2 separate regions of the Homo sapiens genome follow, and region 1 is linked to region 2. Evidence: fine-mapped expression QTL. A gene starts in region 2. The other region holds a variant in brackets. All regions are shown on one strand. Distances are from middle to middle.

Evidence for each region.
Region 1: its variant is fine-mapped to the expression of EPB41 in whole blood (TOPMed, PIP above 0.99).

What each region holds. Positions count from the first base shown.
Region 1 is chr1:29,042,044-29,051,062 of GRCh38, forward strand. The region is part of intron 11 of EPB41 (erythrocyte membrane protein band 4.1); the gene reads left to right. Among named protein-coding and RNA genes, the nearest start is that of TMEM200B, 77 kb to the right of the region's middle. The variant T/A (reference allele first, on the strand shown) is at 4,077.
Region 2 is chr1:28,910,096-28,919,114 of GRCh38, forward strand. EPB41 (erythrocyte membrane protein band 4.1) reads left to right here and starts at 4,474. Exons shown (of 21, transcript NM_001376013.1): 1 at 4,474-4,673. RefSeq lists a silencer at 4,239-4,898 and an enhancer at 5,119-5,278.

The DNA of each region.
Region 1 (9,019 bases), 130 kb after region 2:
GTTTGTAGATGTATGCAGACCCTCTCATGAGATATGTAGACCATTGTACAGCAGCCATAGTCACCATTTGGAAGTTCCCTACTAATTGAGCAAGTATTTCTTTCCATGATGTGAGGAAATTTTATAATAGAATGTGAAAAGATCATTTTTACAATGTTCCTCTTGGTTTCATAGTTTAGTCATCTCTTGTGCTAGGTAATGAGCTAGGTGCAAGAGATATTATAGTGAGAGTCCCTGCCCTCATTCAATTCTTAACCTAATGGAGGATATTATAATATTCATCATAGTGGAAGAAACAAGGCATTATGAGAGCATATGTCCTTAATTTAGAGGAATCAGGAAGGGGTCAGCCACATTTGGAAAAAAGATCACCTAAGCAGTAGGACTTTTGTGCTTCCATACTGTGAGTCATGCTTTTTTGTTTTTTTTGTTTTGTTTTGTTTTGTTTTTTTTGAGACAGAGCCTCACTCTGTCACCCAAGCTGGAGTGCAGTGGCACAGTCTCAGCTCACTGCAACCTCCGCCTCCAAGATTCAAGTGATTCTCGTACCTCAGCCTCCCAAGTAGCTGGGATTACAGGCATGTGCCACCATACCTGGCTAATTTTTGTATTTTTAGTGGAGATGGGGTTTCACCATGTTGGCTAGGCTAGTCTTGAACTCCTGGCCTCAAGTAATCTGCCTGCCTCAGCCTCCCAAAGTGCTGAGATTATAGACATGACACCCCCCAACTTTTTTTTTTTTGGTGTTTTTCTACTCTCCTGAGGGGCTGTTTTAATAGTAACAATACAAGGCATGTTGCATGCTTTGTCTTAATCTTCATGAAAACACTATGAACTAGGCTTGGAGATTAAAATGACTTTTCATAAGACGTGACATCTGGTAAATGGAAGTGCTAAGAGTGAAATTCAGGTTGGTTTAACTCCAAAACTCATGTTCTTTCAGATACATATTTATTACTTTGTTCAACAATTTTTCCTATGGGCCAGATGGTATTCCAGTCACTAGAGATACAGCCGTGAGCACACAAACATAGTCTCTGCCTTCATGGAGCTTACCTTCTGTCATTGGAAACAAAGAAGAATAAAACAAAATAATTTCAGATGGTGATGAATGCTGTGGAGAAAATAAAACAGGATGAGGGATATAGACTATCTGGGGATGGGGGAAATTAAGGAGTATTTCAGATTGGATGGTCCAATCTAATTTAGAAGGCTTCTTTGAGGAGCTTCATTTGAGCTGAGACCTGAATTATGTGAAGGAGCCGGCCATCTCAAAATCTGGGGAAAGAGCCTTGCAGAAGAGGGAGTAGCAAGTACAAAGTCCTGAAAGTAGGAATGAGCTTGCCATGTGTCTAGAGCAGTGCTGTCCCATGGACCTTTCTGTGCTGATGGAAATCTTTCATTTTGTGATATCCAGTTCAGCAGCCAATAGCTGCTAAGCTAAGAACTTGAAATGTGGCTATGTGCCTGAGGAACGGAATTTTAATTCCAATTTAAATAGCCACATGTGGTGTGTAGCTCACATATCAGACAGCATAGGTCTAGATTCCAGAAAATGAAGGGGCGAGGAGTACAAAATAAGTGAGGTCGGAGAAGTAGGTGGGAGCCAGATTGTATAGGGCCTTGTGGGTCACAGTAAAGAGTTTAGATTGTATTTCATTTGCACTGGGAAGCTATTAGAGGGAGTGATGCAATCTGAATCCCATTTTTAAAAGATCGCTGACAGCTGAATAGTCCATTGAAGTGTCAGTGAAAAGCAGGGCGAAGGCTGTTGCAGAGTCTGGGACAGCCTGGACTTGAGTGTTGGCAACAAAGACAGGGAAAAGTAGTCAGGGATACATTTGGAGATAGGGCTGACTGAATTGCTGACAAATTAAGTATTGGAGATGATAAGGAAAAGAAACTCAAGTTTTATTGCTTGGCTTAATCATTTAGTAGAATGAGAAAATCTGGGAGAGTAGCAGAGTTGGGGATATGGAAAATAAAAACTCCTACTGTGGATAAGTTAAGTTTGAGGCATAATCATTTAATCTTCATGTCTTTGCCATATTCAGATAACAATATCAGGCATCTCCCTCCTTGTCCAGTAAATCACCTTACTTCTAGTTTACCTTATGTGTGGGGAATTATCTTTTTATCCCCATTTTTCAGGTGAGAAAACTGAGGTTGGAAAGTTTAAGTGACTTGTTCAGCATCTCACAGACAGTAAGTTGCAAACTATGACAAAAATCCAGGTCTGTCTGATAGCATGTTCCATGGCTTTCCTTGCTAAATGGAGTTTCATGGTTATATAGATACTATGCCTGATGTATTGTCTTTTCCTGATAGCAAAGATAACCAAAGAGTCAAGTGTTAATGAGCTTTGGTACCTTGAACAAGTTAGAAAGCTTTACAGAAATCACATCTTGACTGCCTTATTACATTTATATTCTGAATTTTTTTTTAAGATGTATGGTCTTAACTTTTCATGGTAATTACCACAGTTCTTGCTACAGTGTATTTAATAAATAAATATTGGCTGGATGTGGTGGCTCACACCTGTAATCCCAGCACTTTGGGAGGCTGAGGCGGGCGGATCATTTGAGGTCAGGAGTTCGAGACCAACCAGGCTGACATGTTGAAACCCTGTCTCTACTAAAAATACAAAAATATTAGCCAGTTAGCTGGGCATGGTGGCACATGCCTGAATTCCCAGCTACTCAGGACGCTGAGGCAGGAGAATCGCTTGACCCCAGGAGGCAGAAGTTGCAGTGAGCTGAGATCGCGCCTGCACTCCAGCCTGGATGACAGAGTGAGACTCCGTCTCAAAAATAACAATAAAATAAAATAAAATACCATTCTTTCCCTACTGCATTCCAGTGTCACCTTTGTTATAAATCAGGTGACCATAAATTTGGGAGTTCATTTCTGGTCTCTCTAATCTCTTGTATTGATCTTTGTGTACCCTTGTGTCAATACCACACTATCTTAATTATTCTAGCTTTTATAAGTGTTTAAATTCTCTAACAATATTCTCTAAGATTATCTTGGCTATTTTTAGCCCTTAGCGTTATCTTATATATTGTAGAATCAGATTTTCTATTTCCACTAAAAAAGTCTTAATACTTTTATTGGGATTTAGTTGATTATATGGATCAGTTTGGAGATAATTGGTATTATAATATTGAGTCTTCTGATTCACAAACATGCTATAACCCTCCTTTTGTTTGGGTTTCCTTTAATTTCTCTCAGTAATGTTTTGTGATTTTTGGTGTAGGTAACTTGTGCATCTTTCATTAGATTTATTCTTACAGATTTGATGTCATTTGCTATTTTATATTAATATTATTAGATAGGGTCTCACTCTGTCATCCAGGCTGGAGTGCGATGGAGCGATCACAAGTCACTGCAGCCTCAGTCTCCCAGGCCCAGGTGATCCTCCCACCTCAGCCTCACAAGTAGCTAGGACTACAGGTGCATGCCACCATGCCCAGCTAATTTTTTTTTTTTTTTTTAGAGACAGGGTCTTGCCATGTTGCCCAGGCTGGTCTCAAATTCCCAGGCTCAGGCAATCCTCCCACCTTGGCTCCCCAAAGTGCTAGGATTACAAGAGTGAGCCACCACACCCAGCCATCGTTTGCTATCTTAAATGGTATCTTTTGGTTTTTGGCTGGTTGCAGTGCCTCATGCCTATAATCCCAGTACTTTGGGAGGCCAAGGTGGGAGGATCGCTTGAGTCTGAGAGTTCAAGACCAGCCTGGGCAACATGGCAAGACCCTGTCTCTAAAAAAAAAAAAAAAAAAATTAGCTGAGCATGGTAGTGCACACCTGTGGTCCCAACTACATGGAAGGCTGAGGCAGGAGGATCACTTCAGCCTAGGAGGTTAAGGCTGCAGTGAGCTGTGCTTGTGCCACTGCACTGCAGCCTGGGCAACAGAGTGAGACCCTGTCTCTAAAATAAAATAAAATAAAACAAAATAAAATAAATGGTATCCTAAATTTTTTATTTTTTGTTCAATTGTTTTGGTACATAGAAATACAATTAATTTTTCTAGTTTGACCTTATACTCAGTAATCTTACTAAAAAAATTTTTTTT[T/A]AATTTAATTTTATTTTTTTTTTGAGACAGAGTCTCACTCTGTCACTCAGACTGGAGTGCAGTGGCACTATCTCGGCTCACTGCAACCTCTGCCTCCTGGGTTCAAGTGACTCTCCTGCCTCAGCCTCCTGAGTAGCTGGGATTACAGGTGCACGCCACCACCATGCCCGGCTAATTTTTTGTATTTTTAGTAGAGACGAGGTTTCACCCTGTTGGTCAGGCTGTTCTCGAACTCCTGACCTCGTGATCCACCCACCTCGGCCTCCCAAAGTGCTGGGATTACAAGCGTGAGCCACCACACCCAGCCCTAAAAAATTTATTATTAATTTTAATGGTTTATCTGTGGATTATTTGGGGTATACATTATTGTGTACTCAACATCAACTGAAAATAATGATTGTTGTATGTCTTCCTTTCCATCTCGCATTTTTAATTTCTTTAATTGCTTTGTTGCTGGCTAGAACGTCCAATGTAATGCTGAATACAAGCATTAATAACTATCATCTTTCCCAATTTTAGGGCAAAAGCTTCAGTATTTCATCAAGCTTCCTTATATGGTATTTTCTTTATCATATAAGGAAGTTGTCATTCTAGTTTCCTACACATTTTAATTGTGAATTAGTGTTACTTTTATCAAATGCTTTTTACTTCATCAGTTGATATAATAAAATGATTTTTCTCCTTTTTATGTTAATGTGGTATATTATTTTTACTTTCAATTTTTAAACGACCTAAGAATTTTTGGAGTAAGTTCGAATTGGTCGTAATACTCTTTTCTTTTTTATTGTTTTAGGATTTCTACAACTATTTTCATAAGAGAGATAGGCCTATAATTTTCCTTTTGTAATGTTGTGGTCAGGTTTTAGTTTCGAGTTTATGCTGGTCTCATAAAATAAATTGAGAAGAATTCCTTCTTTTTCTGTTCTCTGGAAGAGTTTGTTAAAGACTGTTGTCATTTCTTTGTTACTGTTTAGAAGAATTCGCCTATGAAGCCATATCTGGTCCTAGAGATCTCACTGTGGGAGGTTCTTTACTTACAGATTCAGTGTCTTTATTAGATAAGGGACTATTAAAATGTTCTAGTTCTTGTTTCAGTTTTGATAAATTGTGTTTCTTTTTTCTTTCTTTCTTTCCTTTTTTTTTTTTTTTTGGAGAGAGAGTCTTAGCTCTCTCAGGCTGGAGTGCAGTAGTGCCGTCATAGCTTGCTGTAGCCTTGACCTCCCAGGCCCAAATGATCCTCCCACCTCAGCGTCCTGAGTAGCTGGTACCACAAGTTCACGCTACCGCGCCTGGCTAATTTTTTTTTTTTTTTTTTGTAGAGACAAGGTCTTACTGTGTTGCCCAGGCTGATCTTGAACACCTGGGCTCAAGCAGTCCTCCCACCTTGGCTTCTCAAAGTGCTGGGATTATAGGTGTGAGTCATCGCACCTGGCCTAGTTGTGTTTTTCTAGGAAATGTGCATTTTATCTAAATTTCCAAATATATTTACATAAAGCTGGGTATCTTTTCAATATCTGTAAGAACTATAGCAGGGTCCACTTTTGCATTCCTGATATTGGTAAGTTGTACCTTTTTGTTTCGAATAGCCTTGGTAGAGGTATATTGATTTTATTAATCTTTTCTTTTTTATATTGTAAATTGACAATTTATGTATGTATGTATGTATGTATGTATGTATTTATTTTTGAGGTGGAGTTTCACTCTTGCTGCCCAGGCTGGAATGGCGTGATCTCGGCTCACTGCAACTTCTGCCTCCCAAGTTCAAGCGATTCTCCCGCCTCAGCCTCCCAAGTAGCTGGGATTACAGGCATGCGCCACCATGCCCGGCTAATTTTTGTATTTTTAGTAGAGACGAGGTTTCACCATGTTGGTCAGGCTGGTCTCTACCTCCTGACCTCAAGTAATCTACCTGCTTCGGCCTCCCAAAGTTCTGGGATTACGGGCGTGAGTGAGCCACCGAGCCTGGCTGACAATTTATAATTGTATATATTTATGGGGTACAAAGTAATTGTCTTAAGTTTTTCAAAGAACCAACTTTTGGTTTTGTTGTTTTTTTCCTATTATATATAGTTTAACTCATGCCAGCTGATATCTTTATTATTTTCTTTTTTTGAGACGGAGTTTTGCTCTCGTTGCCTAGGCTGGAGTGCAATGGCGTGATCTCGGCTCACCGCAACCTCTGCCTCCCAGGTTCAAACAATTCTCCTGCCTCAGCCTCCCGAGTAGCTGGGATTACAGGCATGCACCACCACGCCCGGCTAATTTTGTATTTTTAGTAGAGACGGGGTTTCTCCATGTTGAGGCTGGTCTCGAACTCCTGACCTCAGGTGATCCACCCACCTCAGCCTCCCAAAGTGCTGGGATTACAGGCGTGAGCCACCGCGCCCGGCCTATTATTTTCTTTACGCTTTTATTGAGCTTTTTTAAAAAAAATTCTTGAACTAGATACTCATTAATGTTCATTATTTCTTACAACTTAACCTTAGAATGTAAGTGACTTGCCTAAGGTTACATAGCTAGTTGGAAAGAATTAGAAGGGAATCCGGGACAATTCTCCTAGGCCCATGCTTTTTACTCTTCACCATGATGACTTCTTTTTTTTAGAAAGAGTAGAATAAAAGTTAATAGTCAATATTCCTTGAGCACTTAGTATGTTCCAGGCACTGTTCTATCTTTTAAGTATCTGAAGTGCATATAAACTGAATAGGACAATTTTTTTTTGTAGTTCTGTTTTTAAATGTCTTATTTTTCTCTTTGTACTATAGTATAAAAAGTGGAAATATGTCTGTGTAACTATTTTTCCCTCCTTTCCTTAGATACTTCTCTGTGCTCCTTAAAAGATACTTTTTCCCGTTGAGTCACCCCTCCCTTTTCAAAAGATTAATATAACTCTGTAAGCTAGAGATGGTGTATCAGGGAAACTTTTACAAGAATTGCTTTATAAGGGGTCTTATTTTAATGATAAAAATGAGCATTCCCTTCCTCTTCTGTTATGTGTGGTGCTTAGAGCATCTGCTTCACCAGCTGGAGTACCAAAACTGGTTCAGATCCCAGTTTTATGATAGAGTAGTAAGTTGCAAGCGTAGCTAATAATGATGACAAAGATTATATTTTTCTTGCACTTTTTGCTTTTCAAACCATTTCCATGTATTCCTATTTAATACTAGCAACTTAGTCAATAAGAGAAAACATTTAGGAATTACAGTTTTACTCATGAGGAAACTGGAGCACAAAAGAAAGGGCCACACAACCAGGTAGTTCATCCATTCAGTGAGCAGTGGTTACAGTGATTCTTGCCAGGGGTGTACATCCTTATCACCTTTGGAGCTTTAAAACAAAACACATGCCCAAGCCTCACTCTTGGATAGCTCATCTCACTAGAGTGGGCCTGAGCATCATCTGATTTTTTTGTTTTTTGTCTTGAAAAACAAACATTGTATCAGAGGACACAAATGATTTATGTGGTCCTCTGATAAAAGAACCACCCTACCGCATACTAGCAGAAATTGTGCTAGTAAATAACAGCTAGAAGTAGAAGTTGTTTGCCTTTACTCAGTCTGATGGTTTGAATTTTATTCTTTACTGCTGTAGTATATAACTATCTAAGTTTCTGTTGTCAGCCAAGAGCAATATAGTATTGAAGTTAGTGGGTCACCATCAGCATTTTTCTTTATGTAGACCCTCAGATATGGGAGATACTGGATTTTTAAAGTTATGTATTGTCTATATATGCACCAAAATCTTGTAAATATTAACAGCTGAATTAATAAAACTGAAGACCCACACATCTTAAAAAGCAATCCTTACCCCCAACACTGTGAATATACTAAAAAGCATTGAATTATATATTTTAAATGAGTGAACTGTGTGGTATGTGAATTGTATCTCAAAAAAAGCTGTTAAAAAAAGCCATGATCACTACCATGATATTATAGAGTTAATATCTTCCATATTTTACAGATGATTAAACTAAAGTTTGTAAGATTAAGCTCCACGCCTTAGGCACACTACTATATGTGACTGAGTGTGGGCCTAAGACTCGTGATTTGGCTTTTGCCTCTGTTCCACGCAGCCTTTCACAGCCAGAGCTTTTTATTGTAATGTTATTATTTTTCCAATCTGTGAACTCTGTTTCTGTCAGTTTCCACACTAATACCTTCTTTTCCACATACAGTACAGATTGCCAAGGCTAGGAATGCTGAAGACATAAATCATTTGGCTCTGCAGTATTAGTACTGGATTGAAACCAAAGACAAGTGGCAAAATAACACATGGTGAAAGCATGGGCTAAGTTTCTATGATGCCAGGCATAGTTGAATTAATTCTTTGAGAGGAGGTGTGAATACACATGTATAATGATACTTAAACACAACTGTGAGCAAAATATTTTGTCACATTCCCCTGTGTTGTCAGGTTTGGTCTGCCATCTGCCACTCTTGCAGTGACTGCTTAAAGCACCCATTAGTAGTAGCTCTGTGCTAATCCAGAGTTATTACTACTAACCCAGTAGTAGCAATCTGTGCAAGAGGCCGCAGATTTTTCATGGAAAGATAAAGGAGATCCTTTTTTTTTTTGAGACAGAGTCTTGCTCTGTTGCCCAGGCTAGAGTGCAGTGGTACGATCTCGGCTCACTGCAAGCTCCACCTCCTGGGTTCAGGCCATTCACCTGCCTCAGCCTCCCAAGTAACTGGGACTACAGACGCCCGCCACCACGCCCAGCTAATTTTTTGTATTTTTTAGTAGAGATGGGTTTCACTGTGTTAGCCAGGATGGCCTCAATCTCCTGACCTCGTGATCCACCCACCTTGGCCTCCCAAAGTGCTGGGATTATAGGCGTGAGCCACCACGCCTGGCTGATAAAGGGGATTCTTGAATTTCTGCTGTTTTTCCTATATATCCGCTAAGGAATTAGTTCTTTCATTGGAAATTATGACAGAGTAATG
Region 2 (9,019 bases):
AAAAAAGTGTACGTATAAGAAAAGGTACTAGAAGGGAAGGTCCCAAAATATTGATGGTAGTTATTTTTGACTGGTGGCTTTATAGTGACTTACATTTTTTCTTGTGTTTCTAAATTTTCTATGAACAATTCAAGTACTACTAGTAAAATTAATCCCCATCCCACTGTATGAATGGTAATTCCCATCCCATTATAGCCTGTTTGATTTATCATTTGTGTTTACAAGTCTAAAATAACTGTGATTTTTTATCCTGCCATAGGCAGGATGGCAAGCACTACTCTTCATATACTTTTGGTACCAGCATCAGTTTTCATTCAACAGTACTGTTCAGAACACTTTGTTGGTGGGCCCAGCTTTTCAAAGCCCTCTTCAATCTCTTGCCACCCTCCACAACAGACACAGGGCTTCAGGCCAGCTGTGTCCCTAATCCGCCCACGTCCCAGATTTGGGTATGGTTTCCCCGCCCCTCCCCGCTTTCTTCCAGTCTCATCTCTACCAGGTCATCTGAGGCCTCATCTACACTCCCTGGCCTTCCCCACTGGTCACCACCTAATTTCACCATCTAATTTCACCCTCTTATGTGCAGCTGGTGTTTGCTTTTGCTTGGGCTCAGTTTGCTGTGGGGAAGGATTAAGACCCTTTCACACTGTCTTTTTTTTTCTTTTTCTCTTTTGCTTACTGCCCTTGACTGCTCCAGGGGCTAACAGGCAGCTAGCGGGGCCTGTATTCCCTAGGAAGGAACACAAGGGGTAGGGGGTGGGGAGGTAATGGTGGGCTCAGCTGGCAGGCGAGATAGAGATGGTCCTTAGGGACCCCATCCTGGGGCTTGGGGCATAGCACAGCTGCCACCCAGATGTGAGCATGGAGCAGAGCTGTTTCTGCCTTGGAAATTAGCCTCAGAGACGGTGCTTGGGACCTTTACCCTTGGTACCTGATGGCAGTCTCTGCAGGGTGAGCTGGGACTGGATACCTGGTTTGCAGAAGTCTGAGAGGGCAGATGGGCCCAGGAGTAAAGGTAGTTTTTCCACCTTCATATTAGGCATTACTTATACCCCCACATCTTCCTATGTGATAGGCCTGGCAACACTCAGAGATTGGGCACTTAGCCTAACAACTGAAGATGTGTGTCTAAAATAACAAAAATTCCTCATGTGTGGATAGTACTTTACAGTTTACAAAGCCCTTTCATCTCCAGGCTAAGAATTAAAAGCCAGCACTGGAATTCAGGTCTTTCAGATTCTAAAGCCTGAGTCAATGGATTATGGTGTGTTATTGCATGGCACTCTGAATTTCAGAGTAGTTCATACCTGCCTTGTGTCTAGCCTTTTGCTGTTAGCCTGAGACCTCTACTTATTTGCAGAGTAAGGATTATTAAATGCTACATATTCTTTGCATCCAATTAGATGTGCCATTGGCTAGCACTTCATGGCATAGAGAATACTGGGCTTTCATGAATCTGAATTTGCTGGATAACTTGGTGGTGGTGGAGATGGTAAACCACTGGTAATTGGTCTTCTATACTCATCCTTCAAGGTACCAGATTTTCCTGTCTGATTGGTGAAGGAAGCCTGAGGCACAGAGGTGGTAGGACTAGAACTCTGAATAAAAAGCACAGCTGAACCTGAGGACTTGAGGCAGGAGACCAGAGTATTTAAGAACAGGTGTGGCCAGGCATGGTGGCTCATGCCTGTAATCCCAGCACTTTGGGATGCTGAGGTGGGTGGATCACCTGAGGCTGGGGGTTCGAGACCAGCCTGACCAACATGGAGAAACCCCATCTCTATTAACAATACAAAATTAGCCAGGCGTGGTGCACATGCCTGTAATCCCAGCTACTCACGAGGCTGAGGCAGGAGAATCGCTTGAACCTGGGAGGCAGAGGTTGCAGTGAGGTGAGGCGAGATCGTGCCATTGCACTCCAGCCTGGGCAAAAAGAGCGAAACCCCTTCTCAAAAAAAAACAGGTGCTTCACCCCTCATACACAGAATGACCCTGGCCAAGTCACCTGACCTCACTAAGACTCAGTTTCCTTATATGTAAAATGAGGATGTTCATTAACTCATTCAACAAATATTTATTGAGCGTATACTGTTCTGGGAGATGAATACAGATACAGTCCCTGCCTTCCTGAGCTTGCAGTCTAGTGGGTCTAGATTACAGCAATTTATTTGAGAGGCACAATAAATAATAAATATATAGTAGAAAGTCAAGTAGGGTAAGTGCTATGAAGCAAATTAAAGCAGGATAAGGGTGTTTGAGTGGAGGGTGTTTTAGATGGTATAGTCAGGTGGTTTTCAAGGGGTTTTATGATGTTTCAAATGGACAATTTACATAACGTGCTCAGCTCAGTGCTAACAACAATTGCATGCTTAACAAATATATTATTATATTTGCCAGTTCCACACCTCTCAGTCCACATTTTAGTCTCTGAATAGTAATAATAATTAACACACATAGATCTTACTATGAGCTAGGCACTGCTCTAAGTCCTTTACATATTTTAACTCATTTAATTCTGTTTTCCTTTTTCTTTTTTTTGAGATGGAGTCTTGCTCTTGTCACCCAACCTGGAGTTCAATGGCATGATCTCGGCTCTCTGCAACCTCCACCTCCTGGGTTCAAGTGATTCTCCTGCCTCAACCTCCGAGAATAACTGAGATTACAGGTGCCTGCCACCAGGCCCAGCTAAGTTTTGTATTTTTAGTAGAGATGGGGTTTCACCATTTGGCCAGGCTGGTCTCGAACTCCTGACCTCAGGTGATCCGCCTGCCTCAGCCTCCCAAAGTTCTGGGATTACAGGCATGAGCCACCATGCCTGGCCTAATTCTTACAGTAACTCTGTGAGGTGGGAACTATTATTATCCTTCTCCCTCCCCCAACCCTCGTTTTTGTTTTTAGGGATGGAGTCTTGCTCTGTTGCCCAAGCTGGAGTGGAATGGCATGATCCTAGCTCACTGTGGCCTTGAACTCCTGTGCTTGAGCAATCCTCCCACCTCAGCCTCCCACTATAGGTGGGAGTCCCAGCTACTTGGACATATTATCCCCTTTTATGGTGTTGAAAAATGAGGCACAGCCGGGCGCGGTGGCTCAAGCCTGTAATCCCAGCACTTTGGGAGGCCGAGAAGGGCGGATCACGAGGTCAGGAGATCGAGACTAACACGGTGAAACCCCGTCTCTACTAAAAATACAAAAATTAGCTGGGCGTGGTGGTACACGCCTGTAGTCCCAGCTACTCGGGAGGCTGAGGCAGGAGAATCGCTTGAACCCGGGAGGCAGAGGTTGCAGTGAGCCGAGATTCCGGCACCGCACTCCAGCCTGGTGACAGAGCGAGACTCCGTCTCAAATAAATAAATAAATAAATAAAAGAAAAATGAAAATCAAACCATTAGAAAAGGCTGGAGACTAAGAATTGAACCCAGGCAATCTGTTTCCAGAGGCTGTGCTGGGATCGTGAAGGGGCTGTGATTAGATATCAGGAATGTCTAGCTGGCATCTACAGACTCTGCTGTCAGATGGCCTGGCTTCTTATCCTGTCAGTTTTAAGTCTCTCTGCTTCAGTTTCCTCATCTCTAAAATAGAACACCAGATCCTATCTTACCTTCTAGGTATCATGCTTAAAACAAAAGCCTTCTTTCTGCACTGTGGGTCCGAAGCCTGTTCACAGACCAGCCTAGCAGGGAGTAGGAAGGGTCAAGGGGTCTCTGACACTTCTGGAAGGAAATAAAGACACACTAAGCAATTGTCAGAGCAACCCTCAGTTCATCTGGAGACCAGACCTCGGAAGCTAGGTCTTTATAATGTTGAGATTGCCAGGGGGGAATTAGGAGATCCTTAAATGCAGAAGACAGGTTCAATCTTGGCGTGGTCTCAACACTTAGCTTCCATTTCAGGCCTTACACAGCTGGCACGAGAGGTAAAGTCTCATCGAATGTCAGGGTTGGAAGGGCGCCTAGAGACAGTCAAACTAGTGGATGGGGAAACTGAGGTACAGAGAAGCTGAGTGACTTACCCGAGGTCACTAAGCGTTTAGGGGGAGTCAGTTGGGGTAGCCTGGCTACAACCTCTACGCGAGTTACTTCCCTGAGGCTTCCAAATCTCGGCCTCTTACTTGGAAGGAGGAAAGGGCCTCACCGTCCAGGGCTCTAGCTGCCTCATGCCCCACGTGGGTGCTGCGGGATCCCGGAACACCCCGGCTCCAGACCGGGTTCGACTTGCGCGTGCGCACACGCGGCCAGCCCCTTGCCTTTTCCTCTCTCTTTTTCGTTCCCCTCTCCTCTCCTTACCGGCCTAGGGGAGGGGGGAAACAAGGGGAGCTAGAAGTTGGCCTCAGCCAATGGGCGGACGGGCCGCGGGCCCGGCCCCCTCCTTCCCTCCGGCGCGGCCCAATAGAAATTTACTACAATGTTGTGGCGAACTGAGGGGGAGGGGCGCGGGCCGGCGGGCGGGCTGCGGGCCGGGCTGGCCTCGCCTCGCAGAGGGAAGGCGGGAGGGCGCGCGCCAGGGTCGCTCGCTCGCTCCCTCCCTCCGCTGGTGCGTTTAGTCAGTCAGCCAGCAGCAGCCGGCGGGCCCGCGAGCCGCAGAGGGCCCGAGCCTCGGACGCCGGCGCCTCCTCCTGCCATTGTTCGTCGGGCTGCAGCAGTGGCGGGCGCAGGAGCCCGGCCCCGGAGCCACCGGTGAGGCGAGGCGGCGGCGGCGGCGCGGGAGCCGGGGCGGTGGGCGTGGAGCTGTCCCCGTGGGGACGGTCCTGGCGGCCGCGGCGGCGCTGCAGCCTCTTTGTCTGCAACCCCCGACAGGCCCCGGGCCGGGGCGCGGGCTCTCCCGCGGAGGAGCCTCGTGTGCACGCCGAGTCGCCAGCCGGGACGCGGCCCGAGGAGCGAGGGGCGGGCCAGAGCCGCTGAGGAAAGGGGAAGGGGTTGCGTCGCGGGAGTGTTGGAAAGTTAGGCTTGAGATGTATTTTTGACGGTCCCCTCGGGTGCGTCAATCACGGTGCGGTGTGCAGGAGCCTCGGGAGGAAACCAAATGCGGAGAATCGCAGGTTTCAGACGGTGAAGGTGTTGCGTGCAGCCGCGGAGCGATTTCTTCCTGGCGAGGGAGCTGGGCTGTCTGCAGAAGTCAGGCGGAATCTGAGGACTGCAGGGAGCCCTGGCAAGACTTCGCAGGCCTTCCCGCCACCGACGCCTGCATCATTGAAAAACATGTTCCCCCTTAGTCTTCTGGGTTCCCAGCGAGCAGAGGGTTAAATCTATTCTCTCAGCGTCGTGACCTCCTTTTTCAGTTCGCGCATCTGTCGGCTTGGAAATCTTCCTCCGTGCTCGCTGGGCTGCTGTACCTGTGGAGAGGCCGGGTCTGGGCTCGCCCTCCGAGATTGACCAGCAGGCCATTATTCCTGGGGAGGTTTTGCCAAAACAGGTCATGCTCCCCAAGAACAGGCATTCTCTTGAGAAAAAGTGATCTCACGTGAAACAGATTGCTGATGGACTGGTTTCTGGCCACATGATAGCGACTGTCATCCTGTTGTTTCTTTAACTGTACCCTGTACCCTGCCATAAATGACTAGTCTGTGGAGACTTGTTTTTTGGCATGTAGTTGTTCATTAGGAGATAGTTTTTTCTTTTTCCTTTTTTTTTTTCAGATGCTTTTTTTTTTTTTTTTTTTTGTAGTCTGGGTGATTTCACAGCTGCTATTTTCTTCCCTTCTGTTTTTAGGGAAAATTGCAAGAAATGGTTGTGTCTTGTGTCTTGGATATTATTATAGTGGATTTATACTCTCTTGAGGATGTACTGTAGTCAATGCTGTTGCTCATTGTTGTTTTCTGTATTCTCAGTCCTGGCAAAAATTTTAGTTGGTTTGATCCCTTTAATCAAAAGCAGGATATATAGCCCGTATATGTTTCTTCCCGTCCCAGTTTTGTTAATGTAGCACTAACCCCTACTTTTTATGGAAACTTGATGTACTCTTCATTTTCCTTTTCTGTAAATTGAAAGTGTAATCAGTTCTTCGCCAGTTGTAAAATTTTTGGTTTGGGGTGTTATTAATATAATCCATGTAGCGTACATGCTATCTGGCGTACAGTAAGCACTCAATAAATGGCAGATTCAAAAATAGATGTAATAACTGAACACCAGATTGCCTTAGAATCAAAGTAGTTAATTCAGTGTGCTTTCTATAAGAAGCTTATAATTAAGGTAAATATAGATATTATTCATACACCTGGGGAAACAAGTACAGTATATCTTTGGCACTATTAAAAGTGAACTATGTCGGGCACGGTGGCTCACGCCTGTAATCCCAGCACTTTGGGAGGCCAAGGCGGGTGGATCACTTGAGGTCAGGAGTTCGAGACTAGCCTGGCCAGCATGGTGAAACCCCATCTGTACTAAAAATGCAAAAAAGTAGCTGGGTGTGGTGGCATGTGCCTGTAATCCCACCTACTCAGTAGGTGGAGGCAGGAGAATCGCTTGAACCTAGGAGGCGGAGGTTGCAGTGAGCCGAGATTGCACCACTGCACTTCAACCTGGGCAACAGAGCAAAACTGTCTCAAAAAAAGGTGAACTCATTGTTGAACATAAGTTCAGAATGCCAACCTTCTGATTCCTCTGTCTTCTACCAACAAAACTATACATTTTTCCTTGTATGTTTGAATTCAGGCTTAGAAATAAATGTTTTTAATCTGTAGGTTTTACCAAAATTCTCCCAACAATTTTTTTTTTTTTTAAACAGGGTCTCATTCTGTCACCCAGGCTGGAGTGCAGTGGCATGATCACGGCTCACTGCAGCCTTAAACTCCTGGGCTCAAGTGATCCTCCTGCCTCAGCCTCCCTAGTAGCTGGGACTATAGGCGTGTGCCCCCATGCTTGGCTAATGTCTTTTTATTTTTTGTAGAGACAGTCTCACTATGTTGCCTAGGGTGGTCTTGAATTCCTGGACTCAAGAGATCCTCCTCCCTGGGCCTCCCAAAGTGCTGGGATTACAGATGTGAGCCACCTCACCCGGCCTCTCCCAACATTTATTAAGTGTTTTATACCAAATGTCTTGTAAGTTCTTATGCAATATGGCTACAATCTACCTTTCCACCTTTATTCTCCTTATTTTTTGTATTGTGCAACCAAATAGAACTACTCTGTAATAACCCTTGCTTTGCCATCTCTCTCTCTGTGTGTGTGTGTGTGTGTATGTGTGTGTGTGTATTTATTTATTTATTTTGAGATGGAGTCTTACTCTGTCACACAGGCTGGAGTGCAGTGGCATGATCTCAGCTCACTGCAACCTCCACCTCCTGGATTTAAGCAATTCTCCTGGCTCAGGCTCCCAAGTAGCTGGGATTACAGGCGCTTGCCATCATGCCCACCTAACTTTTGTATTTTTAGTAGAGTTGGGGTTTCACCATGTTGGTCAGTATGGTCTCGATTTCTTGACCTCGTGATCCACCCGCCTCGGCCTTCCAAAGTGCTGGGATTACAGGCATGAGCCACCGTGCCTGGCCCTGTATACATATGTTTTTAGAGACAGGGATCTTACCTTGTTGCCCAAGCTGGAGGGCAGTGGCATGATCCTGGCTCACTGCCGCCTTGAACTCCTGGGTTCAAGTGATTCTCCCACCTGAGCCTCCTGAGCAGCTGGGACTACAGACGTGCACCACCATGCCCAGCTTTTTTTTTTCGTTTTTAAAACACGGGGTCCTGCTATTGTTTCCCAGGCTGGTCTCAAACTGCTGGTCTCAAACTCCTGAGCTCAAATGATCGTCTCACCTCTGCTTCCAAAAGTGCTGGGATTACAGACATGAGTCACTGTGCCCAGCTTAGTCTGTATTACAGACATGAGCCACCATGCCTGGTGTGTAATTGTTGGTGTGAATGATAGAGTTTGCTTACTTTTTTTTAATGTAGTAATCCAGTTTCATATTGCTAATCTGATTTCATAACTTTAGAATATCAGTGGCCATGAGAGGCTGAGTTTGGTTCTGAAATCAAGAGGAGCATAGATGTAGACCACAGTCTGTTTCCTTGTTATCTAAGAGGCAGGACAGCATAAGTGTTGCCAGTGTATTTTTGTTTTTCTTGTCTTTTCTGTCTCAGCCTCCTGAGTAGCTGGGACTACAGGCACACACCACCACACCCAGCTAAATTTTTGTATTTTTAGTAGAGACGAGGTTTCACCATGTTGGCCAGGATGGTCTCCAATCTCTTGACCTCGTGATCTGCCCACGTCCGCCTCCCAAAGTGCTGGGATTACAGGCATGAACCACCACACCCAGCCAATGGCCTGTATTTTTCTGAGTTTCATCAAGTTTGTGTTTGGTTAAATGCATATTCAGATGTGGATTCATTGCTACCTCTATATTTGAATTTTTTCTTTAATTACTTGAACATGGAATCACTTTATTTTGTGAGCTAAACAACAATAATTCCAATAACTTTTCTTATGAATAACTTTGTTTTTTTCCTCTAAATAAAGCCCCCAAAGATGGCCTCTGAATTAATCAGTTATGGGCCTTATGTATGTGAAGGATCCAAAATTATTGAAAAGTAATTGCTAGCTAGGTGCAGTGGTTTATGCTTGTAATCCCAGCACTTTGGGAGGCCGAGGCCCACGGATCACTTGAGCCTTTGAGTTTGAGACCACTGCATTCCAGCCTGGGCAACAGAGTGAAATTCTGTCTCAAAGAGAAAAAAGAAAAAGTAATTGCTTGATTGCATTTATCATAGCATTTAGTTAGAGGAGAGGAGAGGCAGATGCCAAATGTATGTTATTTTTTGTTGTTCATTTAAGTTTCTTGGTATGTCACTGGTGGCTTTTACTGTGCGTCCTTTTTAAGAGTGGGTTCATGGTGTGTTTAGTCAAATGCAATATAACTTACTCTGGAGTGCACACTGGGTTAGATTAGTATTTTGATTTACTCTGCTGCTATTTAATGAATACATAGAAAGATAAAGAAGAATGCTGTAGCAGTGAGGAGTATTCAGAACTTGGAGGTGTTAGAAAGGAGAACTTTGATATTTTATATTGAGTGCTGATCTCA